Linked DNA regions of Homo sapiens. The protein of the gene in region 5 purifies or fractionates together with the protein of the main gene of each other region. This does not show direct contact. Each region holds a gene or a part of one and is shown on either strand. Other genes may lie near its edges.

Region 1 (4,473 bases), on a different chromosome or scaffold from region 5:
CTAACCTTCATATCTAGGCAGTTTGACTTGAATTTAAAATTTAAAAAAAAGAGAGAGAGAGAAGCTGGTTGTTTGAATTTTTTGTGAAGTGCTCTGATTATTAAATGTTATCCCATTTTAAAAGTTAGTTTTAAAAAGTAAGCATTTGTAGGCCAAACAAAATTCATTTATGATTGTTTTTAGTCTCTGAAGCAGGCTGACAGTGAGGGAAGTGACTTACCCAGAATCACCCAGGAAGTAGCGACAAAGATTAGGTCTTCTGACTTCTGGTCCACTTCCAGGAAAAATCTAAGTATACTGTGTGTCACATCAGGGCTAGCTGATTTATTCTTATATTTTATTCATGAGGAAGTGAATTTGGAGAGGAGAATGAACTTCACCATGCTTATACAGCAGTTTTTAAGGCAAAATAGAATCATGAAAAAGACACCACAGTTGTAGTCAAAGGTTGAGTCTGAAATCTATGAACGTAACGGCTGCATGTCTTGGGGCCAGTCATAGTACTTTTGTGGATCTCTGCCTTCCTTTTGGAAGTGTTGATAATGAGATGTACCTCACAGAGTTGTTGAGACTAAGATAAAAGATAAAATTTCTACGTCTCTAGAGTTGTAAATGGCAACCATAGTTTCTCATTAGATGTTAACCAAAAAAGTAGTTAACAGTCATGGCATGATTCAGTCATTCCCAATTGATTCACAGCAGGGCACAGTGGCTCATGCCTGTAATCCTAGCACTTTGGGAGGCTGAGGCGGGAGAATTGCTTAAGCCCAGGAGTTCAAAACCAGCCTGGGCAATATAGCAAGACTCGACTCTCTCTCTACAGAAAATATTTTTTTTAAATGAATTGGGTCTAGTAGTGTGCCCTTAAAGTCCCAGCTACTCGAGAGACTGATGTGGGAGGACTACTTGAGCTCAGGAGTTCGAGGCTGTAGATAGCTGTGATTGTACCACTGCACACCAGCCAGGGTGACAGGGTGAGACTCCATCTCTTTAAAAAAAAAAAAAAAAGGATTGATTCACAGTATCCAAATAGTAGAAACAACCCAAATGCCATCAACTGATGAATGGATAAACAAAATGTGGTCTATCCATACAATGGAATATTATTCAACGATAACAATGAAAGGAGTACTGATATCTGGTACAACATGAATTAGCCTTGAAAGCATGCTAAATGAAAGAAGCCAGACACAAAAGACCACATATTATATCATTTCATTTATATACAATGTCCAGAATAGGCAAATTTATAATTACGGAAAATAGATTAGTGGTTGCCTACAACTAGGGGGTGGAGTTGGGGTTTGGGGAAACGGGGAGTAAATGTTAATAGATATTGGTGTTTTTAGGGAGGTGATGAAAGTGCTCTGGAATTAGGTAATGGTGATGTCTGCATATCTTTATGAATATACTAAAACTCCTAAATTGTGTGCACTTTAAAATGGTGAATTTATGGTATATGAATTATAGCTCAATAAAAATAAAAAAATTAATTATAAAAAGGTTAGCTACCAGTAGACCCATGGCTAAATAAAAACCTGAAAATTTTAGGGAAAACTAGATACTCACATGGAAATTGGACACTTAGTTTATACCAAATACAAAAATAAACTCAAAATGGGTTAAAGACTTAAATATAGCCAGGCGCAGTGGCTCACGCCTGTAATCCCAGCACTTTGGGAGGCCAGGGAGGGTGGATCACTTGATGCCAGGAGTTTGAGACCAGTCTGGCCAACATGGTGAAACCCTGTCTCTACTAAAAATACAAAAGTTAGCCAGGCATGGTGGAGCACGCCTGTAATCCCAGCTACTCAGGAGGCTGAGGCACAAGAATCGCTTGCACCCAGGAGATGGAGGTTGCAGTGAGCCAAGATCATGCCACTGCACTCCAGCCTGGGCAACAGAGTGGGGACCCTGTCTCAAGAAAAAAAAAAAAAAAGACTTAAATATAAGAACTGAGATTGTAAAACTACTAAAAGAAAACATCGGAGAAAACTTCTGTATATTTATATGTAATACACAATAAAAATTATTGGTTTGGGAAATAGTTATTTGGATATTTCTGCAAAAACACAGGAAACAAAAGCAAAAATTGACATGCAAGATTGCAGCAAAGTAGTTTCTGAACAGCAAAGGAAACAATCAACAGAGTGAAGAGACAACCTACAGAATGGGAGAAAATATTTGCAAAGCATCCATCTAATAAGGGGCTAATATCCAAAATACATAAGGAACTCAAACAACTCAATAGCAAAAAAATCAAATAACCCAATTAAAAAATGGGCAAGGACCTGAATAGGCATTTCATAAAAGAAGACATACCAAAATGGCCAACAAGTATATAAAAAAAATGCCTGACATCACTAATCATCAGAGAAATGCAAATTCAAACCACAGATATCACCTTATACCTATTAGATGGGTATATCAAGAAGGCAAAAGATAGCAAGTGTTGATGAGGATGTGGGGAAAAGTAAACCTTGTACACTGTTGGTGGAAATGTAAATTGGTATAACCACTATGGAAAATAGTATAGAGTATCCTTTAAAAATTAAAAATAGAACTACCATATGATTCAGGAATCCCACTTCTAGGCATGTATTTGACAGAAATGAACTCAGTATCTTGAAGAGATATCTGCACTCCTGTGTTCATTGCAGCATTATTCACCATAGCCCACACGTGGAATCAACGTAAGTGTCCATTAATAGATGAGTAAAGAAAATATTATATATGTATACACACATGCACGCACACACACACACACACCCCATTCAAATAATGTCATTTTGTTCAACATTGTCTAATCATAAGAGAAAAAAATCAATTCCCAGCCAGTACCAGTATCTGTGTGGAGTTTGCATGTTCTTATATATGGTAAAATTGGTTTCATTTTACATCATTTCACTTAAAGCAGCAGTTTCCAAGAACTGAATGATGATGTTAAGTGAGGATTTATTGTGCACACACACATACACACACAGTGGAAGTTATTCAGCCTTAAAAAAGGACATCTTGCCATTTGCAGCAACGTAAATAAACCTGAAAGACATTATGCTATGTGAAACAAGTCAGACACAGAAAGACAAGTACTGCATGATCTCACTTATATGTAGAATCTAAGAAAGTCAAACGCATGGAAGCAAAGTATAGAATGGTGGTTGCCAGGGCTGAGGGCTAAGGGAAATGAGATATTGATCAAGGGGCACAAAGTTTCAGCTAGGCAGAATGAATAAGTTCTGGAGGTTTCATGTGCACCATGGTGACTATGGTAAATAACACTGTACTGTATACTTGAAATTTTGTGACAGTAAATATTAAGTGTTCTCACCACCAAAAAAATGGTAACTGTGAAGTGCTGATTATGTTAATTCACTGGATTGTGGTAATCATTCCACAGTGCATACATACATCAAAACGTCATGTCGTACACCTTAAGTATATACAATTTTTATTTGTCAGTTATACCTCAATAAACCTGGAATTAAAAAACTGAAAATTCTATAATCTCATCTCTGATCACTGCTCTAACCATAGGTAAGCACTGGTATCAAATTATACATCATTCTAGATCTTTGTTTTACTCATTCATGTATGTATAGTTTTGAGTGTATTATATATGAATATGTAGATACATATTTACATATTATATATATAAAGCTTTTATATAAATGACAAATGATCCAGTTTTCATTTAAAGATTGTGAAATATTTCAGACATATAGAAAGATATAAATATGGTATAATGAGCATATACCCACCACCAGCTTAATATTGAAAACACTGGCTGGGCACGGTAGCTCACACCTGTAATCCTAGCACTTTAGGAAGCCCAGGTGGGAGGACGGCTTGAGCCTAGGAGTTCAAGACCAGCCTGGGCAACATAACAAGATCCCATCTCTACATAAATTAAAAAATTAGTCAGGCATGGTGGCACATGCTTGTAGTCCCAGCTACTTGGGAGGCTGAGGTGGGAAGATTGCTTGAGCCTGGGAGGTCAAGCCTGCAGTGAACTGTGAATGCTCCGTTGCACTCCATCCAGTCTGGGTGACAGAGCAAGAAACTGTCTCAAAAAAAAAAAAAAGAAAAGAAAAGAAAGAAAACACTACCCCTGGTATACTCCCTTCCCCAAACACATCTCCCACTCTCAAACATAGAGATCGCTGCTATTCTGAATTTGACATTTTATTCTGTGTACTAAGGAACTTAACCTTGCCTGAAGAGAAGTCTGGCCTTTGCCCTTGGCTTCTGGAAGACACTCCCTAGCTCTTAGAATGTCACACCTCATAGGGGTGTCTTTGTTTGCCCAGGGACCTTGCATCACACTGAATATTCTAGAAATGTGATTTAGGATGAGGGCTGGCCACACCAGATAATGTTAACAATGTGATTTAGAGTGGAAGCAATACCAGATAGTCTAACAATGTGATTTAGAATAGGGGCTTTGGATCAAATGGTATCAGCTCAACTTCA
Region 2 (4,473 bases), on a different chromosome or scaffold from region 5:
TATACCTACCCAAGCTGAGTACTTAAAGTCCTCCTCCAAGGAATTTGAAATTAGGATGTCTCAGCTAGCCTGTTGAAGAACATGCAAATTGAGGGGCTGGGGCGACCATCTTCCCCTGTGTGCACAAAGGAGCTAGAGAAATGGTCTGCAGAGAAAGAATAAAGAAGATGTGCACAGAAAAACAAAGAAAAAACCTTATGGCCCCATAGAGAAGGAGAGAGATTGAGCTAGAATGTGAAAGTACCTGTCCTGGATCCTGATGGCTTTCCAGTTTCTAGTTCTCTTTTCTCCTGAGACCACATTGTATTTTCTTTCTTTTTTTTTTTTAATTTTTTTTTAATTTTTTTTTATTATACTTTAAGTTTTAGGGTACATGTGCACATTGTGCAGGTTAGTTACATATGTATACATGTGCCATGCTGGTGCGCTGCACCCACTAACTCGTCATCTAGCATTAGGTATATCTCCCAATGCTATCCCTCCCCCCTCCCCCCACCCCACCACAGTCCCCAGAGTGTGATATTCCCCTTCCTGTGTCCATGTGATCTCATTGTTCAATTCCCACCTATGAGTGAGAATATGCGGTGTTTGGTTTTTTGTTCTTGCGATAGTTTACTGAGAATGATGATTTCCAATTTCATCCATGTCCCTACAAAGGACATGAACTCTTCATTTTTTATGGCTGCATAGTATTCCATGGTATATATGTGCCACATTTTCTTAATCTAGTCTATCATTGTTGGACATTTGGGTTGGTTCCAAGTCTTTGCTATTGTGAATAATGCCGCAATAAACATACGTGTGCATGTGTCTTTATAGCAGCATAATTTATAGTCCTTTGGGTATATACCCAGTAATGGGATGGCTAGGTCAAATGGTATTTCTAGTTCTAGATCCCTGAGGAATCACCACACTGACTTCCACAATGGTTGAACTAGTTTACAGTCCCACCAACAGTGTAAAAGTGTTCCTATTTCTCCACATCCTCTCCAGCACCTGTTGTTTCCTGACTTTTTAATGATTGCCATTCTAACTGGTGTGAGATGGTATCTCATTGTGGTTTTGATTTGCATTTCTCTGATGGCCAGTGATGATGAGCATTTTTTCATGTGTTTTTTGGCTGCATAAATGTCTTCTTTTGAGAAGTGTCTGTTCATGTCCTTCACCCACTTTTTGATGGGGTTGTTTGTTTTTTTCTTGTAAATTTGTTTGAGTTCATCGTAGATTCTGGATATTAGCCCTTTGTCAGATGAGTAGGTTGCGAAAATTTTCTCCCATTTTGTAGGTTGCCTGTTCACTCTGATGGTAGTTTCTTTTGCTGTGCAGAAGCTCTTTAGTTTCATTAGATCCCATTTGACAATTTTGTCTTTTGTTGCCATCGCTTTTGGTGTTCTGGACATGAAGTCCTTGCCCATGCCTGTGTCCTGAATGGTAATGCCTAGGTTTTCTTCTAGGGTTTTTATGGTTTTAGGTCTAAGGTTTAAGGCTTTAATCCATCTTGAATTGATTTTTGTATAAGGTGTAAGGAAGGGATCCAGTTTCAGCTTTCTACATATGGCTAGCCAGTTATCCCAGCACCATTTATTAAATAGGGAATCCTTTCCCCATTGCTTGTTTTTCTCAGGTTTGTCAAAGGTCTGATCGTTGTAGATATGCGGCGTTATTTCTGAGGGCTCTGTTCTGTTCCATTGATCTATATCTCTGTTTTGGTACCAGTACCATGCTGTTTTGGTTACTGTAGCCTTGTAGTATAGTTTGAAGTCAGGTAGCATGATGCCTCCAGCTTTGTTCTTTTGGCTTAGGATTGCCTTGGCGATGCGGGCTCTTTTTTGGTTCCATATGAACTTTAAAGTAGTTTTTTCCAATTCTGTGAAGAAAGTCATTGGTAGCTTTATGGGGATGGCATTGAATCTGTAAATTACCTTGGGCAGTATGGCCATTTTCACGATACTGATTCTTCCTACCCATGAGCATGGAATGTTCTTCCGTTTGTTTGTATCCTCTTTTATTTCCTTGAGCAGTGGTTTGTAGTTCTCCTTGAAGAGGTCCTTCACATCCCTTGTAAGTTGGATTCCTAGGTATTTTATTCTCTTTGAAGCAATTGTGAATGGGAGTTCACTCATGATTTGACTCTCTGTTTGTCTGTTATTGGTGTATAAGAATGCTTGTGATTTTTGTACATTGATTTTGTATCCTGAGACTTTGCTGAAGTTGCTTATCAGCTTAAGGAGATTTTGGGCTGAGACAATGGGGTTTTCTAGATATACAGTCATGTCGTCTGCAAACAGAGACAATTTGACTTCCTCTTTTCCTAATTGAATACCCTTTATTTCCTTCTCCTGCCTAATTGCCCTGGCCAGAACTTCCAACACTATGTTGAATAGGAGTGGTGAGAGAGGGCATCCCTGTCTTGTGCCAGTTTTCAAAGGGAATGCTTCCAGTTTTTGCCCATTCAGTATGATATTGGCTATGGGTTTGTCATAGATAGATCTTATTATTTTGAAATACGTCCCATCAATACCTAATTTATTGAGAGTTTTTAGCATGAAGGGTTGTTGAATTTTGTCAAAGGCTTTTTCTGCATCTATTGAGATAATCCTGTGGTTTTTGTCTTTGGCTCTGTTTATATGCTGGATTACATTTATTGATTTGCGTATATTGAACCAGCCTTGCATCCCAGGGATGAAGCCCACTTGATCATGGTGGATAAGCTTTTTGATGTGCTGCTGGATTCGTTTTGCCAGTATTTTATTGAGGATTTTTGCATCAATGTTCATCAAGGATATTGGTCTAAAATTCTCTTTTTTGGTTGTGTCTCTGCCCGGCTTTGGTATCAGAATGATGCTGGCCTCATAAAATGAGTTAGGGAGGATTCCCTCTTTTTCTATTGATTGGAGTAGTTTCAGAAGGAATGGTACCAGTTCCTCCTTGTACCTCTGATAGAATTCGGCTGTGAATCCATCTGGTCCTGGACTCTTTTTGGTTGGTAAACTATTGATTATTGCCACAATTTCAGCTCCTGTTACTGGTCTATTCAGAGATTCAACTTCTTCCTGGTTTAGTCTTGGGAGAGTGTATGTGTTGAGGAATTTATCCATTTCTTCTAGATTTTCTAGTTTTTTTGCGTAGAGGTGTTTGTAGTATTCTCTGATGGTAGTTTGTATTTCTGTGGGATAGGTGGTGATATCCCCTTTATCATTTTTTATTGTGTCTATTTGATTCTTCTCTCTTTTTTTCTTTATTAGTGTTGCTAGCGGTCTATCAATTTTGTTGATCCTTTCAAAAAACCAGCTCCTGGATTCATTAATTTTTTGAAGGGTTTTTTGTGTCTCTATTTCCTTCAGTTCTGCTCTGATTTTAGTTATTTCTTGCCTTCTGCTAGCTTTTGAATGTGTTTGCTCTTGCTTTTCTAGTTCTTTTAATTGTGATGTTAGGGTGTCAATTTTGGATCTTTCCTGCTTTCTCCTGTGGGCATTTAGTGCTATAAATTTCCCTCTACACACTGCTTTGAATGCGTCCCAGAGATTCTGGTATGTTGTGTCTTTGTTCTCGTTGGTTTCAAAGAACATCTTTATTTCTGCCTTCGTTTCGTTATGTATCCAGTAGTCATTCAGGAGCAGGTTGTTCAGTTTCCATGTAGTTGAGCGGTTTTGAGTGAGATTCTTAATCCTGAGTTCTAGTTTGATTGCACTGTGGTCTGAGAGAGTTTGTTATAATCTCTGTTCTTTTACATTTGCTGAGGAGAGCTTTACTTCCAAGTATGTGGTCAATTTTGGAATAGTTGTGGTGTGGTGCTGAAAAAAATGTATATTCTGTTGATTTGGGGTGGAGAGTTCTGTAGGTGTCTATTAGGTCCACTTGGTGCAGAGCTGAGTTCAATTCCTGGGTATCCTTGTTGACTTTCTGTCTCGTTGATCTGTCTAATGTTGACAGTGGGGTGTTAAAGTCTCCCATTATTAATGTGTGGGAGTCTAAGTCTCTTTGTAGGTCACTCAGGACTTGCTTTATGAATCTGGGTGCTCCTGTATTGGGTGCATATATATTTAGGATAGTTAGCTCCTCTTGTTGAATTGATCCTTTACCATTATGTAATGGCCTTCTTTGTCTCTTTTGATCTTGTTGGTTTAAAGTCTGTTTTATCAGAAACTAGGACTGCAACCCCTGCCTTTTTTTATTTTCCATTTGCTTGGTAGATCTTCCTCCATCCTTTTATTTTGAGCCTATGTGTGTCTCTGCACGTGAGATGGGTTTCCTGAATACAGCACACTGTTGGGTCTTGACTTTATCCAATTTGCCAGTCTGTGTATTTTAATTGGAGCATTTAGTCCATTTACATTTAAAGTTAGTATTGTTATGTGTGAATTTGATCCTGTCATTATGATGTTAGCTGGTGATTTTGCTCGTTAGTTGATGCAGTTTCTTCCTAGTCTCGATGGTCTTTACATTTTGGCATGATTTTGCAGCGGCTGGTAC
Region 3 (4,473 bases), on a different chromosome or scaffold from region 5:
CGTTTGAAACAGAAGGGTGAAATGAATGAGAATTTTGGTGAAGAGAAGGCAGAGTGGAGAACAGGATACAGCAGGCTAGAGAATTGAGTTGTGCATGGCACGTCTGTTTTCTGAGCCTATTCTTTTCACTCCCACCGCCTATAACCTTCCCCCAGATGAAATTCCCTTTATCCTCCTCCAGTTACACCATTTAATTTGAATAAAATACCTGTGTTCAACTTAAAAGTATTTTTCAAGCGCAGTTGACTTTTCACCTTTGCAGGGGTCTAGGTTTTGTTATTACTGAGTTACCGTCAAGACCCCTCACAGCTGCCTCATCGTGCTCTGTGGCTGGGAGTGTATACCACACTGGGTTCACATCACCATTCAGAAATTAACCACACAGTGGACTTAGGCGTTTAGGGCTTTAGTCTACAAACAGCATGTATTGCTTATTAATTTGTTCTCATAAACAATTTAAAAGATATTTGTTTTTCCTGCAGTTTTTGAATCTAACTTAAATATTAAGTTTTTTTTTCTTGGTAGTTCACCAAATCTCTGCATTTTGCTAATCGTTTTTTCTATAAAGTAATTTTTAAAGTTCTCAGCAGTAATATTAAAGCCACGTGAGCTATGTCCAGCATCCCATTTGTTATAAAACAAGAACCTTTGACTAATGGGAAATTCTCAGTCAGCAAAGACATTTTGAAATTTGTAACTATGATTTTTCTGTATTCTTCCAAGACTGGTAGTTTGAAATTTTAGGCTGCTTAGGAGTTTACAGATAGTATGACCTCTTTGTTCTGCAGTAAGAGTCAAGATGCTACCTTAAAACCTTTGCTGTCTTCCTTCCCCGCCTTGCTCCTGAGTTTTAAGTCGTGGCTGCACCAGAGATGTCTCTCCGTGGAGCTGGTCCTCACTGTGTTCTCATGTGCTTTTTCTGGGAATGCTCTGCACACGCTGTCCGGATGCAGATAACAGGAGGCGCAGGGTTCGTGGGCTCCCATCTAACTGACAAACTCATGATGGACGGCCACGAGGTGACCGTGGTGGACAATTTCTTCACGGGCAGGAAGAGAAACGTGGAGCACTGGATCGGACATGAGAACTTCGAGTTGATTAACCACGACGTGGTGGAGCCCCTCTACATCGAGGGTGAGTGAAAACTGCACATTGTTATTATTCAGAGCTCCGCAGGTGGCCTTGCCAGAGCTGCGGGATTCCTGAGGGTAAGCTGTTTGACTCAGCACATTGAAAGCTATGTTGGGTTTTATTTTTGAAATGTCTCAATATGTATGAGGTGCCGTCCTAGTCTGTGTGATAACGAGTGGTTATAACAGTGTGAATAGCCGTCTTCTCTCCTACGTGGCACCCCTGGTCCTGAACTTCATGGACCTGTTGAAGTAACTTTCCTGTAGTACACATCTGCTGTGGTCTGAATGTTGGTGTCACCCCAAATTCATATGTTGGCATCCCAAGCCCCACAGTGATGGTATTAGGAGGTGGGGCCTTTGGAGGTGATGAGTTCATGGAGACAGAGTCGTCACAAATGAGATTAGTGTTTTTATAAAAGAGGCCTGGGAAAACCCCGTTGGCCTTTCCACCGTGTGAGGACGTGGCGAGAAGATGCATATATGAACCAGGAAGCAGGTCCTCACCAGCACCCAATCTGCCAACCCCTTGATCTTGCTAATTTGATAGAAAACCATTGGTTCAATGTACATTTCTTTGGTTACTAAATATGGTTAGAATTTAACATGTTAATTCACCAGAGAAATACCAATGGTTTTGTTAGTCCATTTTAAAAATATTCTTTTAGTATGAGTTCTTTGTAATAGGAATGTTAACTGTTGGGCTTGTATTTAGCATTTTTCCCACAAAGGCAAAAAGTTTTTGCCTTTTCGTTTGAGTGACATTTTATAACATAGTTTCATCTGTTCATATTCTTCTTGCTGTTTCTTCTGTTCTCTTTCTGCTCTAACCGTTCCAAGATGAGATGAATATTTAATCTAATATTTAGAAAGCAGCCATGGTGTTAATTTTGTTGGTTGGTTTTTTGCTTCATTTTTAAACGTTTAATTATGTAATCTGTTTAGGATTCATTTTGGAGTGAAGCTGTAGTTTTTGTAAAGTATAACAGGCTATGTAGATTATAGCTCAGTGGGCTCACTTTCCTCTTGGATTTCCTCCTGGGATTGCTGTGGGGTTAACTGAGGTCATACATGTGACAGGGCCTGGCAAGCAGATTCTCACAGTTCCCTGCTAAGATGCCCTTTCCCATTGTTCAACCCAAGATGCTAGGTGGTGCTGTCACAGGACTTTGCTGATAGAATCAAGGTTATGAACCAGCTGGCTTTAAAATGAGGATGATCCTGGATTATCTGGGTGTGCCCCCACATAGTCACATGAACCGTCAAAGGCAGCAACAGAGAATGGAAGAGTCAGGTAGAGAGACTGGGTAGAAGAGATACCGCGGGGAGACCAGGCAGAAGGGAAGCTGGAGAGGTTTGCAGTGTGCAAGGGACCTGACCTACCCTGGCTGGCTTTGAAGGAGCCATGTGCGGGAGAGTGTTGGCAGCCTCTGGAAGCTGAGAATGGCTCCCTGCTGAGAGCCTGTAAGGAGACCTCAGTCCTGCAGCCTCAGGGAACTGAATTTTGCTGTCATCCTGAATCATCCTCTGAAGAAAGGAACACAGCCCTGCTGACACCTTGATTTCTGCCTGGGGGCAGGCAGAGCTGAGAACCAGCTGAGCCATACTGTGCCCGGTCCTGTAGACCTGTCAGATCGGATCGTGAATGGATATTTTTTGAGCCTCTAAATTTGATTAGGCAGCAATAGAAAACTACTGTGAGGACTTAGCACAGCACTGGGCCCTCATTTCACTAAGTGCTGCCCAAATTATACCTTTTTTTTTTTTTTTTTTTTTTTTTTTTTTGAGACGGAGTCTCTCTCTGTTGCCCAGGCTGGAGTGCAGTGGCACGATCTCAGCTCATTGCAAGCTCTGCCTCCCGGGTTCACGCCATTCTCCTGCCTCAGCCTCCTGAGTAGCTGGGACTACAGGCACTTGCCACCATGCTGGGCTGATTTTTTGTATTTTTTAGTAGAGACGGGGTTTCACCCTGTTAGCCAGGATGGTCTCCATCTCCTGCCCTCATGATCCGCCCACCTTGACCTCCCCCAAATGATACCTATTAATATTACTACTCTCTTCTCTTTTTTAGCACATGGCAAGAAACATTTATTTTATGACACTATTGTTTATATAATTTCAGTACCACTGAGAAGCCAGAACTTAGTAAAAATGGTGTTTTAATAAGTAAATTATCTTCTTTAACTGCGAGCTTTGATACCAAAGCTGCTCTAGGCCATTTCTGCCAATTCTGTGACTGTGTGTAGGACACACACACACACACACACACATACATGCAAACACACACACCCACACACCCACACATTGAATGAAGTCATACAATAAATGACTGGTGCTTTGTCCTTTGCTCAGAGTATTGCGTTCCCTCAGTTGGCATTTATGTTGGGAGAGCATAAGATGCTTCTCTGCCTCTGTGGTTTGAAGCCTGTTTTTCACTTTCTCCTTCAGCGGGTCCTCAACCTTGGCATCAGGTCTTCTGTGCCCTTGATAATTTCCCCCTTGCTGCCCTCCATCTCTTCACTCTTTCTGCCCTCACAATGCCCACTTCATCCAACAATGCCAGAATGCACCTTCCTTTGAAGCCCACATGGAACATTCTCCAAGACTGATCATATTCTCAGCCATAAAAGACACCTCAGCCAACCTGAAAGAATAGAGTGCTATAAAGTGTCCTCTCAGACCAGAGTGGAATTACACTAGAAATTAGTAACAGAAAGATATCTGGAAAATTACAAAAATATTTAGTGATGAAACAACAAACTTCTACATAAGATATGAGACAAAGGAAAAATCTCAAGAGAGATTAAACATACTTTGAACTAAATGAAAGAATTAGGTTTCTTGTTTATATATTTGATAAAGAATGAGATGGAAGAGAATCTGAAATATTTTTCTCTTTTCAAAAGAAACTTTTTTCCTGATGATGAAAATAATACATACATGTTAAAGAAAATATAGAAAGGTATTTTACAAAGCAAATAGAAAATTATTTTTAATCTTTCTATAAACTGTTGAGGAAGTTGGCTGGGCATGGTGGCTCACACCTATAATCCCAGCACTTTGGGAGGCCAAGGAGGGTGGATCATTTGAGCTCAGGAGTTTCAGTCCAGCCTGGGCAACGCGGTGAAACCCAGTCTCTACCAAAAATACAAAAAGTTAGCTGGGCATGCTTGTGCATGTCTGTGGTCGCAGCTATTCAGGAGGCTGAGGCATGAGAATCGCTAGAACCCAGAATGTGGAGGTTGCAGTGAGCCAAGATAGTGCCGTTGCACTCCAGCCTGGGTGACAGAATAAGACCTCATCTCAAAAAAAAAAACCAAAAAAAAAACACTGAAGCTAACAT
Region 4 (3,138 bases), on a different chromosome or scaffold from region 5:
AATCACTCCATGGTAGAATTCAATTTACTTACTTATTTTGCAGAAGTACAGTCCATCCAGCGTCTCCTCCCCTGCTTTGTACTCGAGAAGATGTTGAAGTGGCAGAGTCTCCCCTCCGTGTTCTGGCTGAAACCCCAGATTCCTTTGAAAAGCATATTAGAAGCATTTTGCAACGTAGTGTTGCCAATCCAGCATTTTTGAAGTATGCAACCTTGGGCATAGCGGTTTTATGAATGGGTTCTCTTCTGTCTTCAGAATTACTGTGCATCCTTTCTGTCCTCATCTGTTTCATATACTTTTTACTGTGATAAATTTGGAAGAAACTGGATATATTTGATCAGCTAGTGAATGGGGAGCAGGAGGGAAGTGGCACCTGAGAATGATAAACAGGAAGTGTTTAAAAAGAAGTTAGGCTAGGCCGGGCGTGGTGGCTCACACCTGTAATCTCAGCACTTTGGGAGACCAAGACGGGTGAATCGCGAGGTCAGGAGATCGAGACCATCCTGGCTAACACAGCAAAACCCCATCTCTACTAAAAATACAAAAAAAAATTAGCTGGGTGTGGTGGCAGATGCCTGTAATCCCAGCTACTTGGGAGGCTGAGGCAGGAGAACCGCTTGAACCTGGGAGGCAGAGGTTGCAGTGAGCTGAGATCCCACCACTGCACTCCAGCCTGGGCGACAGTGAGACTCGTCTCAAGTTAGGCTGGGCACGGTGGCTTACAGCTGTAATCCCAGCACTTTGGGAGGCCCAGGCAGGCGGATCACCTAAGGTCAGGAGTTCAAAACCAGCCCGGCCAACATGGTGAAACCCTGTCTCTACTAAAAATGCAATAATTAGCCAGGCGTGGTGGTGGGCACCTGTAATCCCAGCTACTCGAGAGGCTGAGGCAGAAGAATTGCTCGAACCTGGGAGGTGGAGGTTGCAGTGAGCCGAGATAGCACCAATGCACTCCAGCCTGGGTGACAGAGCGAGACTGCATCTCAAATAAATAAATTAAAAATATAAAAAGTTTAAAAAGCACCTGTGACTTGAGTCTATTTATTTTCAGTTGTTTTACTCAGCTAAGGAAAATAAAGGTAGAAACTTTGTTTTTAAGAGCTTCTGAAAAGGACATAGCCCCTCCTCCTGAAGAATGCCTTCAGCTCCTCAGCAGAGCCACCCAGGTGTTCAGAGAGCAGTACATTCTCAAACAGGACTTGGCAAAGGAGGAGATTCAGCGGAGGTATGATGTCCTGTGTTCACAAACCATCGATCCCTGGCTGGTAGCTGATGCTGTATGGTAGCCTAGACCTGGCTTCTGAATAAACTCTATTTCTTTTTGTTTTTAAAGGGTCAAATTATTATGTGACCAAAAAAAGAAACAACTAGAAGATCTCAGTTATTGTCGAGAAGAGAGGTAAGTGTCAAAAATAAGAAGAATACAATAGGTCAGTAAGACTGGAACCATATTCTCACCCTAAGATGCTGAGCCACATTAGGTGGTTTCAGCATCAAGGGGTGGACCTCAAGAGTCTCTTGTGTCTTACATCATTAGGAAAAGTCTGCGGGAAATGGCTGAGCGTTTAGCTGACAAATATGAGGAAGCTAAAGAAAAACAAGAGGATATCATGAACAGGTCAGTGGGCTGTATAACATTTAGTTACCTAGTCAGGTACTAACAACGATATTTAAGAAAATGGGCATTGGCAGGTGCTTACATACCTACGGAACTGAACTGATCCCCCTGCCTCTCCTCTGAAGTATATGTTGGGGAAAACATGAGGCTCTCCCCTAACCCTTCCTATGGGGCCTACTTCAGAAACACCAGATTCATGAATTATGAGCTTGTGATTATGTTTCTCCTAATTAGTAGAGACCTTAAATTGAGATGTTTGCTTGCCTTTTCTAAAGGATGAAAAAACTACTTCACAGTTTTCACTCTGAGCTCCCAGTTCTCTCTGATAGTGAGCGAGACATGAAGAAAGAATTACAGCTGATACCTGATCAACTTCGACATTTGGGCAATGCCATCAAACAGGTAGGAATAGATCCAAACTAGCTAAATTTGGTAATTTTTCTTAAAGCACTTATTCTACAGAAAATTTTACAAAAATGTAAAAAGAACAGATTCAAATAGATACTGTGAAAATGTGTGGCAAACCACTGCCAAAATATCTATTATTTTAATACTTAAGGTTACTATGAAAAAGGATTATCAACAGCAAAAGATGGAGAAGGTGTTGAGTCTTCCAAAACCCACCATTATTCTCAGTGCCTACCAGCGAAAGTGCATTCAGTCCATCCTGAAAGAGGAGTAAGTAAATACTTCCAATCAGCTATTATCGTGAGATAGTTTTTCCTTTACAGTATGCCAGAATCAACCTGTCTTAATAGAAACCTGAATCTTGGTATTTGCATGTCAAGTAATTACTGGGATGAGAGCCACATGATACATAGGGACTTAAGAAATGACTATGGTGGGAGGATTGAAAGGGATGACCTTCTAGTAACATGATTTTGTTGTGTGGCCAAAGGTATTTTACAGTAATTATGTTCAAAAATATTTCCAGTACTTGCACCGTTTGCCACCTTAAATGAATAGTGAACACTATTGCTATCCACCTGAAACCTTCAGCTGTTAATTTTAGCAAAGCAGTTCTTAGATGTTTCAACATTACCAGTTTAAATTCTTAAGAATCCATATAAATGGTTTATTATAATTCCAAAAGTGAGTGACTTTACAATTTTACAGGGGTGAACATATAAGGGAAATGGTGAAGCAAATCAATGATATCCGCAATCATGTAAACTTCTGACACCACCAGGAGCTGACTCACACCTGAACTGAACACCATTGAAGGCTTAAACCCATATTGTAAAACAGGTAGAATTATCTAATTTATAAAAAGGTGTTTTGATGACCTTTGGTGTGGTTCATCTTTTTAAATATGTTGTTTTATAATAATTGAGTAAATGCTTTTATTTAAAATTTGGAATGTGCTTTATAACTCAAGCCTACAGTTGTGTTCAGCAAGGACTCAGGATTATTTCACACTGCACACTGCCAGAACCTCCCTGAACCCTATTGAGTTTTCTCCATATTTGAGCAAGTTAGTTATTCTTGTGAGCTGTGTTTTAAAGTAGCAGCACCAGAAA
Region 5 (4,473 bases):
AAGTTTTCTTGTCATTAATATCTTGGCAGTAAGGTAAGAACAAAAATGTTTGTTTATCAGGGAATATTTATAAAAAATTGCCAATTCTTAATATAACGAATTTTAGTGCTTTCATTTTCTCCTTTGAATTTATCATAGGCTTCTAGTTATAGTCATCATCATGGAAATGTTTTCCAAATTTGTTAATTTTGGAAATTAACAATTTAGGCCAGGTGCGGTGGCTCACGCCTGTAATCCCAGCACTTTGGGAGGCTGAGGTGGGTGGATCACCTGAGGTCAGGAGTTCAAGACCAGCCTGGCCAACATGGTGAAACCCCATCTCTACTAAAGATACAAAAAAATTAGCCGGGCATGGTAGCATGCACCTGTAATCCCAGCTACTTAGGAGGCTGAGGCAGGAGAATTGTTTGAGCCTGGGAAGCAGAGGTTGCAGAGAGCCAAGATTGCACCACTACCCTCCAGCCTGGGCAACAGAGTGGGACTCTGTCTCAAAAAAAAAAAAAAAAAAAAAAATTAAAAAAGCAAATTATAAGCAAGTCAACAAAATATATGTCTAATTGATGTTTATAAACTTACTCTGTCATGTTTTGTTAATCATCTCATGGGTAGTGTTCAGATTTTTACAAAGAGAATTGGTGAAATATTTTTATGAAATAATGTACAAAAATGAATTTAAAAAATCATACAAATATTTTTGTTTTACTTCTTGTTAAATGTAATCTTAAATTTAACTTTCAGTCTGAAGACCTGATTTTGTGTCAGTTGACGGTCCCAAACTTTTCAAACCAGACTGCCTATCTGTATAACGAAAGTGCTGTCTATGTGTGCTCCACAGGAACTGGGAAATTTTCTCTTCCCCAGGAGAAAATTGTCTTTAATGCACAAGGTACAGTAGCAGTTTTAGAAAGCATGATTGGTGAGCTCATTAGTCATTCTGAGTGCTTTTTTTCTCTTTCCCTGAATGTCACTTCAAGCATGCTGCTTTCAAATGTTTCTGAGACATTTCATACCACAACTACAGCAGCTGAAGCCATAACCCTACTAAGAAACCAAAAGGGTACTAGAATTTCCAAACTATTATATTTACAGACAAAGATAGTAACATTTGTTCCAGGAGAAGATGCCAAGAAGCAAAAAACTATTGCCAAGAGAAGTAATTGCTTATTCCTAGTTAGTAAAAGTGACATATTCTGAGTTGATGCTTTAACTTTTCCACACCCCTAGATAAGAAGAGCTTCAGGTGCTGGACTTATGCAGGGGGGCTGGTCAGGATTGAAGAAGAACCAAGCAGATACTTAGCTGAAGGGGTTGGGCAGAGGACAGAGTGCAGGTAGGCAACAGCATGGAACCCAGGTTTTCTAGTCCCAGCACAAGAACCTTGACAGAGGGTGGGTAGGATGTTACTAAGGTGCCAGGTAGGCTTAGACCTTTTTTTTTTTTTTTTTTTTCCAGTCCCCATTGACTGATGTGGTAAGTTAAAGTCAGAATTAAGAGAACTCCACAGGATTGAAAAAGCTCTTCTTCTGAGTTTTGCAGAAGGAATAATTTTCTTTTTTGGCTTACTAGACTGACTGCTGTCTGGCAAGGCTAGTTTTTATTGTCCTTAAAGCTGAAAGACACAGAGCCTGCTTCTTCAGATAGCAACCGGTTCTTAGCATTTGATTCTGGGATGTAAAGGATGAGTTCGAAGTAGGACTAATGTTGTAAAGGAAAAAATGTGCTTAATATATCATCAAGATGATTTTCTGCTTAGGGTGGTAGCTTTTACATAGCATTTTGTTGTTATTGTTAGATGTATTTGACTCTGTTTTCCTTTCTTTTAGGAGATAGTGTTTTAGGTGCTGGTGCCTGTGGTGGTGTTCCTATCATTTTTTCTAGAAACAGTGGACTGGTGTCTATTACTTCAAGGGAAAATGTGTCTATATTGGCAGAAGACTTGGAAGGGTCTTTAGCATCTTCAGTTGCTGGACCAAACAGTGAGGTAATGTGATTCGATAAGAATTTGAAGTTTTTATGTTATTTATTTTTTAGAGATAGTGTCTCACGCTGTCACCCAGGCTAGAGTGCAGTGGCACAGTCGTAGTTCATTGCAGCCCCAAACTCCTGGCCTCAAGCAATCCTCCTGCCTCAGACTTCCCAGTAGGTGCCTGGCTAATTTTTTGTTTTTTGGTTTGGTTTGGTTTTTGAGACAGAGTCTCACTCTGTTGCCCAGGCTAGAGTGCAGTGGCATAATCATAGCTCACTGCAGCCTCACCTCAACCTCCCGGGATCAAGCAGTCCTCCCCTCTTAACTTCCTAAATAGCTGGGACTACAGACATGCGCCATCTCACCTGGCTAATTTTTTATTTTTTGTAGAGACAGGATCTCCTTATGTTGCCTAGGCTGGTCTCAAACTCCTGGGCTCAAGAATCCTCCCGCCTCGGCCTCCCAAAGTGCTGGGATTACTGGCGTGGAGCCACCATGCCCAGCCTAATTTTTAGTTTTATCAGATTATTTTATACAAATGGTCTCAAAACTGAGACAGTTTTCAAAGACGTAATGATGCAGACATTAGTTCTTTTTATCTTCCTCATCCCTTCTGTCCTCTTTGCCTGGAGCAACTACATTTAAGCCTTTTAGTGATTTATTCTGGTATTTTTCTCCATATATCTAAGTAATGTACATATATTCCTGTCTCCTGATGCATCTGTTGATTTTCTACTACAGAAAATGAGGTTTTGGGTTACCTTATACTCCTTCCTCTGCCTTTATCATTCTAACATAAATTTTTTTCATTGTAATGACAATGTAAATATTGTTTATGGTTTGCTGATCCCAAATACTGATTACATGTCCTTTATTATAGAACTTTGTGTGACTCTTGGAGTGTATAATGACCTCGTTTTGTATTTTCTCACTTTCCTTTCATATGTGACTTAATCTTTTTACACACTCCAGGAGTTCTGTAGAGTGCCCCTCAATGTAGTTTTTCCCAAAGTCAAGTCTCCAGAAACCTTCCATCTGCACAGCTGTCATCCCAGAACTTCCCTTTTCTATTGTCCTCAAATCCTCAGGACCTGTCCTCTGCACCATGCATAGGTGGCCTCATCTCCTGTCAGCGGGGCCATTTCCCATTCCTTCTGCTTTCTATCTTCCTTTGTTGTAGTTAGTATCACAGATATTTCCAAGGAGCTTGTATTTCTGTTTCTTTTTATTCTGGGATGATTTTTTGAGAGGAATAGCCAGGTAAAAATTACCAATTTTATTCTGTTGTCTTGAAACCTGAAATATCCTATCCATAAGATTTTTATCATTCTTTTACAGAAGACTAAAAATAATTAATACTGTTTGGGGTAATTTCCATTTGAATAGTGTATGAAATATATAGACTACCTCTGTAATTCAAATTAAAGTGATTAAGTGTAGTTTTAAAGGAAAGAAACAATTTTTAACTTTTTTTTCTTTTCACAAAAGGGATTAATACCTTGCATTTTGTATTTTGTAATTATACAAAATTATACAAAGTACAAAATACCTTGTATTTTGTAATTAATACGATTACAAAAAAGGATTAATATCTATTTTGTAATTGTATGGTTATTATAATACTGTTATACATTCTGAAGCAATTTTATAGTATTCCATTTCTTTAAAATTTTTCTAAACCGTTGTTTAAATTTGTAATCAACCATTATGCTTAGGTAGTATACACTGTGATGAGTCGTGTAAGAGCAAACCTATAAAAAGATTCTGTTAATTATGATGAAATGTCCAAATTATTTTACTTACAACATAATCCCTGAATTACCTGTACCTTTTCTGTATGACTTTGGTTGATCATTTGATGCTATTTATAGTGTTTCAATAAGTATATGAATAATTGGTATGGACCAAGCTTGTCCAACCCACAACCCATGGGCTGCATGCGGCCCAGGATGGCTTTGAATGCAGCCCAACACAAATTCGTAAACTTGCTTGAAACATAAATTTTTTTTTTTTTAACTCATCAGCTATCATTAATGTTAGTGTATTTTATGTGTGGGCCAAGACGATTCTTCCAGTGTGGCCCAAGGAAGCCAAAAGATTGGACACCCCTGGTACAGACAATACGGCAAACAGCTCGTGTATATGCGGAGTTGCTATCATAGGATGGGTGCAGTTTTTAGTCCAATAATTAAGAATATTCAGATGCCTTTACCTCTAAACTATACTTTGTTATTTTGCAGAGTATGATTTTTGAGACCACTACAAAGAATGAAACTATAGCCCAGGAAGATAAAATCAAGTTGCTGAAAGCTGCCTTTCTGCAATACTGCAGGTATAACATGTTTTTTAAATTATGGATTATTTTATGTGTGAGGATATGTTTTACTGACATGTGCTACTTATTGACTGGTGGGAGCAAGTTGGAGGAATGATGCTATCAAGAGGAGAATGTTTTTTTGAGCTTTAGCACTTTAATAAACTGTTCTTCTGAACTTAGTAGCCATGGG
Region 6 (4,473 bases), on a different chromosome or scaffold from region 5:
ACCTCGGCCTCCCAAAGTGCTGGGATTACAGGCGTGAGCCACCGCGCTCGGCCGTATTTTTGTTTTTTTCTTTTTTTTGGAGACGGAGTCTCGCTCTGTCACCCAGGCTGGGGTGCAGTGGCGCGATCTCAGCTCATTGCAACCTCCACCTCCCAAGTTGCACCAATTCTCCTGCCTCAGCCTCCCGAGTGGCTGGGACTACAGGCGCCCACCACCACGCCCGGCTAATTTTTTGTATTTTTAGTAGAGACAGAGTTTCACTGTGTTAGGCAGGATGGTCTCGATCTCCTGACCTCCTGATCCGCCTGCCTCAGCCTCCCAAAGTACTGGGATTACAGGCTTGAGCCACCGCGCCCGGCCGGATTCCAATTTTTTACCAGATAGGTGTTTTGCAAATATTTCTTCCACTCTCTAGGTTGTCTTTTCATTGTTTTAACTGTGCCTTTCACAAAGCAAAAGTTTTTAACTTTGATGAAATCCAGTTTATTCTTTTTTTTTTTTCTATCGTGGATTATGCTTTTGGTGTTTAATCTCAGAAGTAATCACCAAACCCAAAGTCAGCTAGATCTTCTCCTGTGTATTTTAAGAGTTTTAAAGTTTTGCATTTTACAGTTAGGTCTGTGATTCATTTTCAGGTAATTTGAGTTACTTGTGATCTTGAGTGTCTTTTGATTTACAGGTTTCCCATTTTCTTTTTGTTTTTTTTCCCCCTGTAATTGTGGTTTGAAGAAAGTCAGTTTATGTCCTATTGAGTTTCTCCTAGACTGGATTTTGCCCTTTGCATCCTGTGATGTTGCTGGAAATAGTCCTCCTTCTCTTCTTTAAAGGAGCAGCTCCATCTAGAAGCTTGGTCAGATTCTGGTTCAATTTTTATGGCAAGAAAACTTTCTGGGTAGTTGGTGCGTATGTCTGTGTGCATAGGCTGCAAACATCTGCTTGCTTCTGTGCTGTTCTGTGGACCACTGGATTCGGGTGTTGTTATGAAGTTCTTTGTCAGGTTTTCTCCTGATGGTTTTAGCGGATAGCAATGGCCATTGCCTTAATCTTTTTTTTTTTTTTTTTTTTTTGAGATGGAGTCTTGCTCTGTCGCCCAGGCTGGAGTGCAGTGTTGCGATCTTGGCTCACTGCAACCTCCGCCTCCCAGGTTCAAGCGATTCTGCTGCCTCAGCCTCCTGAGTAGCTGGGATTACAGGTGCGTGCCACCATGCCTGGCTAATTTTTGTATTTTTTTTGGAGAGATGGGGTTTCACTATGTTGGGCAGGCTGGTCTTGAACTCCTGACCTTGTGATCCACTTGCCTCGGCCTCCCAAAGTGCTGGGATTACAGGCGTGAGCCACCGCGCCCGGGCTTTTTTTTTTTTTTTTTTGAGAGGGCGTCTCCCTCTGTCACCAGGCTGGAGTGCAGTAGCACGATCTCGGCTCACTGCAACCTCCACCTCCCAGGTTCAAGTGATCCTCCTGCCTCAGCCTCCTTAGTAGCTGGAATTACAGGCACACACCACCACACCCAGCTAATTTTTGTATTTTTAGTACAGACAGGGTTTCACCATGTTGGCCAGGATGGATTTTTTTTTTTTTTTTGAGATGGAGTTTCACTCTTATTGCGCAGGCTGGAGTACAATGGCATGATCTCAGCTCACTGCAACCTCCGCCTCCTGGATTCAAGTGATCCTCCTGCCTCAGCCTCCAGGGTAGCTGGGACTACAGGCATGCGCTGCCATGCCTAGCTAATTTTTATATGTTTAGTAGAGATGGAGTTTCACCATGTTGGCGAAGCTGGTCTTGAACTCCTGACATCAGGTGATCTGCCTGCCTCAGCCTCCCAAAGTGCTGGGGTTACAGACGTGAGCCACCATGCCTGACCTGGTTTGGTATTTTGTTAAACAGAACCAAAGGCCAGACAGATTTTCTGTGCTTGGATTTAGTCTATATTGGAAGTACCTTGAGGCTGAAGGCACGTGGCTGTGAGCACGACACAGGAAGATACAGATTTGCTGAAAAGAATAGTGAACATAAAGCAGAAGCCAGAACTGCTGATGGCCGTCAGCCCGGTCCCTCCATTCCACCTGACGGTGCAGCAAATTCTGCCGACTTGCCAGAGAGGCAGCTCCAGGAGGGAGAAGCTGCTGTGCTTTCCTGAAGCAGCAAATGTGTTTTCTGCTGAGCAACCAAAACCAAGATCCCAGCCAAGACCCACGATTGCCCAGATCCACCCTCCCTGAAAGGAACTTGGGCAGTAATGCCCAGTCCTAGGCAGTTGCTGAAATCTTTGCCTTTTATTTTCTTTTTTGAGCTGGGATCTTGCTCTGTCGCCCAGACTGGAGTGGAGTGCAGTGGCACAGTCATAGCGCCATGTAGCCTTGGACTCCCAAGCTCAAGAGATCCTCCCGCCTCAGCCTTACAAGTAGCTGGGACTATAGGTACACGTCACCATGCCTGGCTAACATTTTCTATTTTTTGTAGAGATGGGGTATTTGTTGCCAAGGCTGGTCTAGAAGTCCTGGGCTTGGCCGGGCACAGTGACTCACGCCTGTAATCCCAGCACTTTGGGAGGCTGAGGCAGGCGGATCACGAGGTCAGGAGTTCAAGACCAGCCTGGCCAATATGGTGAAACCCTGTTTCTACTAAAAATAGAAAAATTAGCTGGGCGTGGTGGTGTGCGCCTGTAATCCCAGCTACTCTGGAGGCTGAGGCAGGAGAATCGCTTGACCCCAGGAGGCGGAGGTTGCAGTGACCCAAGATTGTGCCACTGTACTCCAGCCTGGGCGACAGAGACTCCGTCTCAAAAAAAAAAAAAAAAAAAGGAAAAGAAAGCCTGGGCGTAAGGATCCTTCTGCCTTGACCTCCCAAGTGCTGGAATTGCAGGCATGAGCCATTGCACCCGGCTTTTTTTTTTTTTTTTCTTTGAGACAGGCACTTGCACTGTTGCCTAGACTGGAGTGCAGTAGCGGGATTAGAGTTCACTGCAGCCTCAACCTCCCAAGCTCAAGCGATCCTCCCACCTTACCCTTCCTGAATGGATGGGGCCACAGGTGTGTACCATCACACGTAGTTAATTTTTAAACTTTTTCAGAGACGGGGTTTCTCCATGTTGCCCAGGCTGGTCTTGAACTCCCGGCTTCCAGTGATCCTCCTGCCTCAGCTTCCCAAAGTGCTGGGATTACAGGCATGAACCACTGCACCCAACCTTTTTTCATTCCCTTAACGAAACCTTTGGATGAACAAAAATTCTTAATTTCAGTGAAGTTCAGTTTATCGACTTCAATTTATACATTTTATAAAGTTTATGAATTTTTTTTTTTTTTTTTAGACGGAGTCTTGCTCTGTCGCCCAGGCTGGAGTGCAGTGGCTATACCCAGGTGTGATCATAACTCACTCCAGCCTCAAACTCCTGGGCTCAAGGATTCCTCCTGCCTCAGTCTCCAGAGTAGGTGGGACCACAGGCACATCCACCACACTGGCTAATTTTTTTTATTTGTAGTGGAGACTACGTCTTACTGTTTGCCCAGGCTGGTCTCCAACTCCTGGGTTCAAGTGATCCACCTCATTCTCCCAAAGCGCTGGGATTGTAGGAGTGAGCCACTGCACCCAGCCTGTCTGCTAATATTATGTTTAAGAGTTCTGAATCTTTTTTTAAATTTTTTAAAATTTTTAATTTTTTATTTTTTTTGAGACAGTCTTGCTCTGTCGCCCAGGCTGGAGTGCAATGGTGCAATCTTGGCTCAATGCAACCTCCGCCTTCTGGGTTCAAGCGATTCTCCTGCCTTAGCCTCCTGAGTAGCTGGGATTACAGGTACACGCCACCATGCCTGGCTAATTTTTTTGTATTTTTAGTAGAGATGGGATTTCACCATGTTGGTCAGGCTGGTCTCGACCTCCTGACCTCGTGATCCTCCTGCCTCCACCCCCCAAAGCGCCAGGATTCTAGGTGTGAGCCACCACACCTGTCCTGAATCTATATTTATGAGAGACATTGGCCTTAAGCTCTCTTTTTTTTTTTTTTTTTTTTTTTTTGAGATGGAGTCTCGCTCTGTCACCCAGGCTGGAGTGCAGTGGCGCAATCTCGGCTCACTGCAAGCTCCGCCTCCCGGGTTCACGCCATTCTCCTGCCTCAGCCTCCCAAGTGGCTGGGACTACAGGCGCCGGCCACCACGCCCGGCTAATTTTTTGTATTTTTAGTAGAGATGGGGTTTCACCGTGTTAGCCGGGATAGTCTCAATCTCCTGACCTCGTGATCCGCCTGCCTCGGCCTCCCAAAGTGCTGGGATTACAGGCGTGAGCCACCGCGCCTGGCCAAGTTCTCTTTCTTATAATGTGCTTTGTTGTCAAGATGATGCTGACCTCATAAAATATGCTGGGAGAGTGTTTCCTCTGTTTTATGGCCTGAAGAGTTAGTGTAGGAATAGAATCATTTCTACATTGGAAGAATTCACTAATTGATGTCTTCTGGACCTGGAATTTTAGTTTTTGGAA
Region 7 (4,473 bases), on a different chromosome or scaffold from region 5:
TGTGGTGAAACACTGTCTCTACTAAAAATATAAAAATTAGCCAGGCGTGGTGGTGCATGCCTGTAATCCCAGCTACTCGGGAGGCTGAGGCAGGAGGATTGCTTGAGCCCAGGAGGTAGAGGTTGCAGTGAGCCGAGATTGTGCTACTGCACTCCAGCTTGGGCAGCAGAGTGAGACCCTGTCTTTAAAAAAAAAAAAAAAAAAAAAAATTCTAGAAGTAATTCATTATAGAAAGTTTAAAGAAGTGTTTGTGTCCTTTTTAATTTAAAAATGTTGTTAGCATCTGGGTGCGGTGGCTTATGCCTGTAATCCCAGCACTTTGGGAGGCCGAGGTGGGTGGATCACCTGAGGTCAGGAGTTTGAGACCAGCCTGGCCAACGTCGTGAAACCCCGTCTCTACTGAAAATACAAAAATTAGCTGGGCGTGGTGGTGAGTGCCTGTAATCCCAGCTACTGGGGAGGCTGAGGCAGAATTGCTTGAACTCAGGAGGCGGAGGTTGCAGTGAGCCAAGACTGCACCATTGCACTCCAACCTAGGCAACAAGAGCAAAACTCTGTCTCAAAAAATATATATATATAAAAAATATATAATATATATAATACATAAATATAATTTTATATATTATATACATCATGATGTATATAATATATAAATATATACAATATATAATATAAATATAATTTTATATATAATATATATTTTATATATATTATATAGTTTTTATATATATAATATATATAGTTAGCTTTTTTTTAAGATCCTTTGAAAATTAAGTTCACCTTCAAAGGAAAAATTATTTTCAGGTCTTTTGTAAAATAAGTGTGCCCCATTTTTCATTATTTTCTTAATCCATGGATGGCTAATGAGCACACTGAGTAGAATGTAAAACATTAGTTTTTGGAAAAAACATTTAATAGATTGAATCAGATTTGTACCAAGACCATTTAGATCTTGTAATTGGATTTCAGACTATAATAATTTTTCTGGTATCATACATTTTCATGAAAATTTTATGTTGATATTCATTTTATATATGTTTTTAGGAGTTTGAACAGTGTTTGTCAGAATTCACAAACCATGTTAGGTACAATGAGTCATTTACTCCCCAGCCCAGCCTAGATTGTCCCCATGTATGAATGCTGGTTTACATCCTGTGGTTAGTTCTTTGTTGGCTGTGTTTATGTAACCCTGTGCTATTTCATTTAAAATAAAAGTTCTGATTTGGTTGTCAGCTGCTGAGGAGCTTGATATGGAAAATGAATTTTTATTACCACCTGTTTTTGGCGAAGAATATGAGGAACAGCCCAGACCTCGATCTAAAAAAAAGGTACATTCACTTAATAGCCTATATAACAATATTTCTCTATAGGCAAACAAGGATACAGTGTTCTTTTAGTGTGCCTGAGAATATGGGAACATATTTTGTTTTCTAGGTTGGAAAATAATTTATTTTCTATTTATATAGAATATAGTAATAATATATTACTGCTATTTATTACTATTATTTATTACTATTTCTATTTGTATAGAAATAGTAATTATTACTATTTCTAGTAATAATAGTAGTAATAATTTATTTCTAGTAATAATTTATTACTGTTTCTAAGTAATAAAAATATCTCAGATTTAGTTGATACCTCAACTAAACTTGTATTGATACAAGGTCAAAATAGAAAACAGTTGCTAAAGTAGTAAGTTCAATTATTTGACAAAAATTTAGACTGTTTTCTAGGGAGCTGTTTTTTCCACGATTATTTCTGATGAGATGATCAGTGGGGTTGAAGTACACAGTTTATTATTTCTGGTCTCTTTTAGGCATACCAACACACATAGAAAGACATGCTGGACAGTTTGATCATTCAGGTAGACCAAATCTACATGCATTAACAAGTGTAATTGTTATAATATTCTGTCAACTTTCTGTGTTTCTGACTTCCAACATAAAGCAGGTTTTAAAAATACCTTAAGAAAGATAGCTTTCACAAATTGTCCCCAAAAGAAAGAAAAAAAACCGGAAAAGGGAGAGAATACTTGGAGTGGAATGAAGGTGGACTTCTGCTTGACACCAAACACAACAATTAACTCAAAATGAGCCATAGACCTAAATGTAAGAGCTAACAATATAAAACTCTTAGAAGAAAACATAGGCCTAAATCTTAATGGCCTTATGTTAGGCAGTTTCTTAGGTAAGATACCAAACGCACAGGGAAGAAAAGGAAAAATAAATAAATAAACTGGACTACATCAAAATTAAAAACTTTTGCATTGCAAACAGTGCCATCAGGAAAGTGAAAAGGGGGCCAGGCACAGTGGCACCTGTAATCCCAGCACTTACAGCACTCAGGAAGGCTGAGGCGGGAAGATTGGTGGAGCCCAAGAGTTTGAGACCAGCCTGGGCAACATAGTGAGACCTCTACAAAAACTAAAAAATAAAAACCAGCCAGGCATGGTGGCACGTGCCTGCAGTCCCAGCTACCCAGGAGGAGGATCGAGGCTGCAGTGAGCTATGATCGTGCCACTGCACTCCAGCTTGGGCAACAGAGCAAGACCTCTCCTCAAAACAGAACTCCAGCATGGATACTTACCTGGCAGGGGAGATACCGTGATTACAAAACTCTAGCATGGGTGACAGAGCAAGGCCCTGTCTTAAAAAAACAAAAATAAAACAATAAAATAAAAAAGTGAAAAGTACTTAAGTGTCACTCTCTATAAGGTGGAGTTGTTGAAAAGTTCTTCAGTTTCTGTTACAGTAATATTTAGATTATTAGTTTATTGTCTTATATTTATTTTCTCATCATTGGTGACTCTCACCACAGAATTTAATATGATTTTGTTGCACAAAGTGATTTATGTAGAAACATCACATTTCCTGGAATATTAATTGACTGTTGTCAGATTCAGGAATACCAGTCAGTTCAAAGCAAATACCTATATTTCATTTTTTCTTTTCTAATTTCATGACACATTAAACAAATAACTATATTTTTATGACAGATTAAACAGATAACTATATTTGTAATTACAGATGACCGTTGTACAATGCAGTGGTTGGGCTCTGATCCCCCCTGCACAGTCACAAATTTGTGTATAACTTTTGACTCCCTAAAAAGTTAAGTACTAGTAGCCTACTCTTCACTGAGCCCCCCTGCACAGTCAAAAATTCATGTATTACTTTTGACTCCCTAAAAAGCTAACTACTAGTAGCCTACTGTTGACTGGAAGCCTTGCTGATAACAGTTGATTAACACATATTTTATATGCTACATACTGTATTTTTATAATAAAGTTAGCTAGAGAAAATGTTATCAAGAGAATCATATGGGAGAGAAAATATATTTACGATTCATTAGGTGGAAATAGATCATCCTCATTGTCTTCAAGTTGAGTAGGCTGAGGAGGAAGAGGAGAGAGGTTGATCTTGCTGTCTCAGGTGGCACGATTGGAAGAGGTAGAAGGAGGTTGGAGAGGCAGGCACACAGAAAAACATACGTGTCCAAGTGGACCCCTGCAGTTCAAACCCATGTTGCTCAAGGGTCAATTGTAATTTGCCTTTGTTGAGAGATGGCTTGTATAAAGTAATGAAATAATGTAGGCTTTAAAAAAGATATTATTATGGTGTTTTTTACTAATAGGGAGCCAAGAGAAAGGCTGTATCAGGATACCAGTCTCATGATGATAGTTCTGACAATTCAGAATGCAGCTTTCCTTTCAAATATACGTATGGCGTAAATGCATGGAAACACTGGGTCAAAACTAGGCAACTTGATGAAGATCTTCTGGTATTAGATGAGTTAAAATCTTGTAAGTGTTTTAATTTTGTTTCTCCTAAGTCCTATTTAAAATCAAGATTTCTGTTATTGAGTACCTTTAAATTTAAAAAACATAAATGTAACTTAAAATACCTGTAAGAATGCATTTTATTTTACTTCAGAGCTCTTACAAAGAATAACGTCAGAAAGTTTCTTAACCTTAATAAGACGCTAAATAATAACAATTATTTTTTATTTTATGTATTTTTAGCTAAATCAGTAAAGTTAAAAGAGGATCTACTCTCTCACACCACAGCTGAGCTTAACTATGGGTTAGCTCATTTTGTCAATGAGATCCGACGGCCAAATGGAGAGAATTATGCACCTGACAGCATCTATTACCTTTGCCTTGGAATACAGGAGGTTAGTAATTTGATGGCTGCTTTCAAGTATAACATTAATAAGAAAAGTTGTGGTAGTTCTTGTTTCTGTAGCATTATGGAACCTTTATTGACTTACCAAGAAACACATCTACAAAGTTGTATGTTTGCTGCCATTTATATATAAATGATAATCAGGATGACATTCTTTCCTTACCCATTGCAGATAAGTGAATTCACATTATAAGGCATGATATGTAGCCACATCTGGCTATAGATCCATGCTGATCTACATGTAAACAGAAAAATGTCATAACTCTGTAAATAGGTCTGTTTCACTGTA

The links.
Region 1: the proteins of NUP133 (region 5) and SIGLECL1 purify together in Homo sapiens (co-immunoprecipitation; one large-scale study listed by IntAct). This does not show direct contact.
Region 2: the proteins of NUP133 (region 5) and RIC3 purify together in Homo sapiens (co-immunoprecipitation; one large-scale study listed by IntAct). This does not show direct contact.
Region 3: the proteins of NUP133 (region 5) and UXS1 purify together in Homo sapiens (co-immunoprecipitation; one large-scale study listed by IntAct). This does not show direct contact.
Region 4: the proteins of NUP133 (region 5) and NUP88 fractionate together in Homo sapiens (co-fractionation; one large-scale study listed by BioGRID). This does not show direct contact.
Region 6: the proteins of NUP133 (region 5) and FCGRT purify together in Homo sapiens (affinity purification with mass spectrometry; one large-scale study listed by BioGRID and IntAct). This does not show direct contact.
Region 7: the proteins of NUP133 (region 5) and ZMYM2 fractionate together in Homo sapiens (co-fractionation; one large-scale study listed by BioGRID). This does not show direct contact.

The regions. Positions count from the first base shown.
Region 1 is NC_000019.10:51,253,340-51,257,812, forward strand, and holds part of SIGLECL1 (SIGLEC family-like protein 1), read left to right. Parts: intron 1-2,589; exon of another isoform or gene 2,590-2,693; intron 2,694-4,402; exon of another isoform or gene 4,403-4,473.
Region 2 is NC_000011.10:8,141,057-8,145,529, reverse strand, and holds part of RIC3 (protein RIC-3 isoform a precursor), read left to right. Parts: intron 1-4,473. UniProt on the Homo sapiens protein: Molecular chaperone which facilitates proper subunit assembly and surface trafficking of alpha-7 (CHRNA7) and alpha-8 (CHRNA8) nicotinic acetylcholine receptors.
Region 3 is NC_000002.12:106,141,851-106,146,323, reverse strand, and holds part of UXS1 (UDP-glucuronic acid decarboxylase 1), read left to right. Parts: intron 1-848; exon of another isoform or gene 849-953; coding exon 954-1,134; intron 1,135-4,473. UniProt on the Homo sapiens protein: Catalyzes the NAD-dependent decarboxylation of UDP-glucuronic acid to UDP-xylose. Necessary for the biosynthesis of the core tetrasaccharide in glycosaminoglycan biosynthesis.
Region 4 is NC_000017.11:5,385,866-5,389,003, reverse strand, and holds part of NUP88 (nuclear pore complex protein Nup88), read left to right. Parts: intron 1-43; coding exon 44-202; intron 203-1,051; coding exon of another isoform or gene 1,052-1,099; coding exon 1,100-1,225; intron 1,226-1,333; coding exon 1,334-1,399; intron 1,400-1,537; coding exon 1,538-1,618; intron 1,619-1,893; coding exon 1,894-2,020; intron 2,021-2,177; coding exon 2,178-2,296; intron 2,297-2,663; exon of another isoform or gene 2,664-2,734; coding exon 2,735-2,798; 3' UTR 2,799-3,138. UniProt on the Homo sapiens protein: Component of nuclear pore complex.
Region 5 is NC_000001.11:229,483,879-229,488,351, reverse strand, and holds part of NUP133 (nuclear pore complex protein Nup133), read left to right. Parts: intron 1-738; coding exon 739-886; intron 887-1,823; coding exon 1,824-1,981; intron 1,982-4,206; coding exon 4,207-4,298; intron 4,299-4,473. UniProt on the Homo sapiens protein: Involved in poly(A)+ RNA transport. Involved in nephrogenesis.
Region 6 is NC_000019.10:49,518,782-49,523,254, forward strand, and holds part of FCGRT (IgG receptor FcRn large subunit p51 isoform 1 precursor), read left to right. Parts: intron 1-2,913; coding exon of another isoform or gene 2,914-3,032; intron 3,033-4,473. UniProt on the Homo sapiens protein: Cell surface receptor that transfers passive humoral immunity from the mother to the newborn. Binds to the Fc region of monomeric immunoglobulin gamma and mediates its selective uptake from milk.
Region 7 is NC_000013.11:20,063,218-20,067,690, forward strand, and holds part of ZMYM2 (zinc finger MYM-type protein 2), read left to right. Parts: intron 1-1,233; coding exon 1,234-1,328; intron 1,329-3,633; coding exon 3,634-3,802; intron 3,803-4,021; coding exon 4,022-4,173; intron 4,174-4,473. UniProt on the Homo sapiens protein: Involved in the negative regulation of transcription.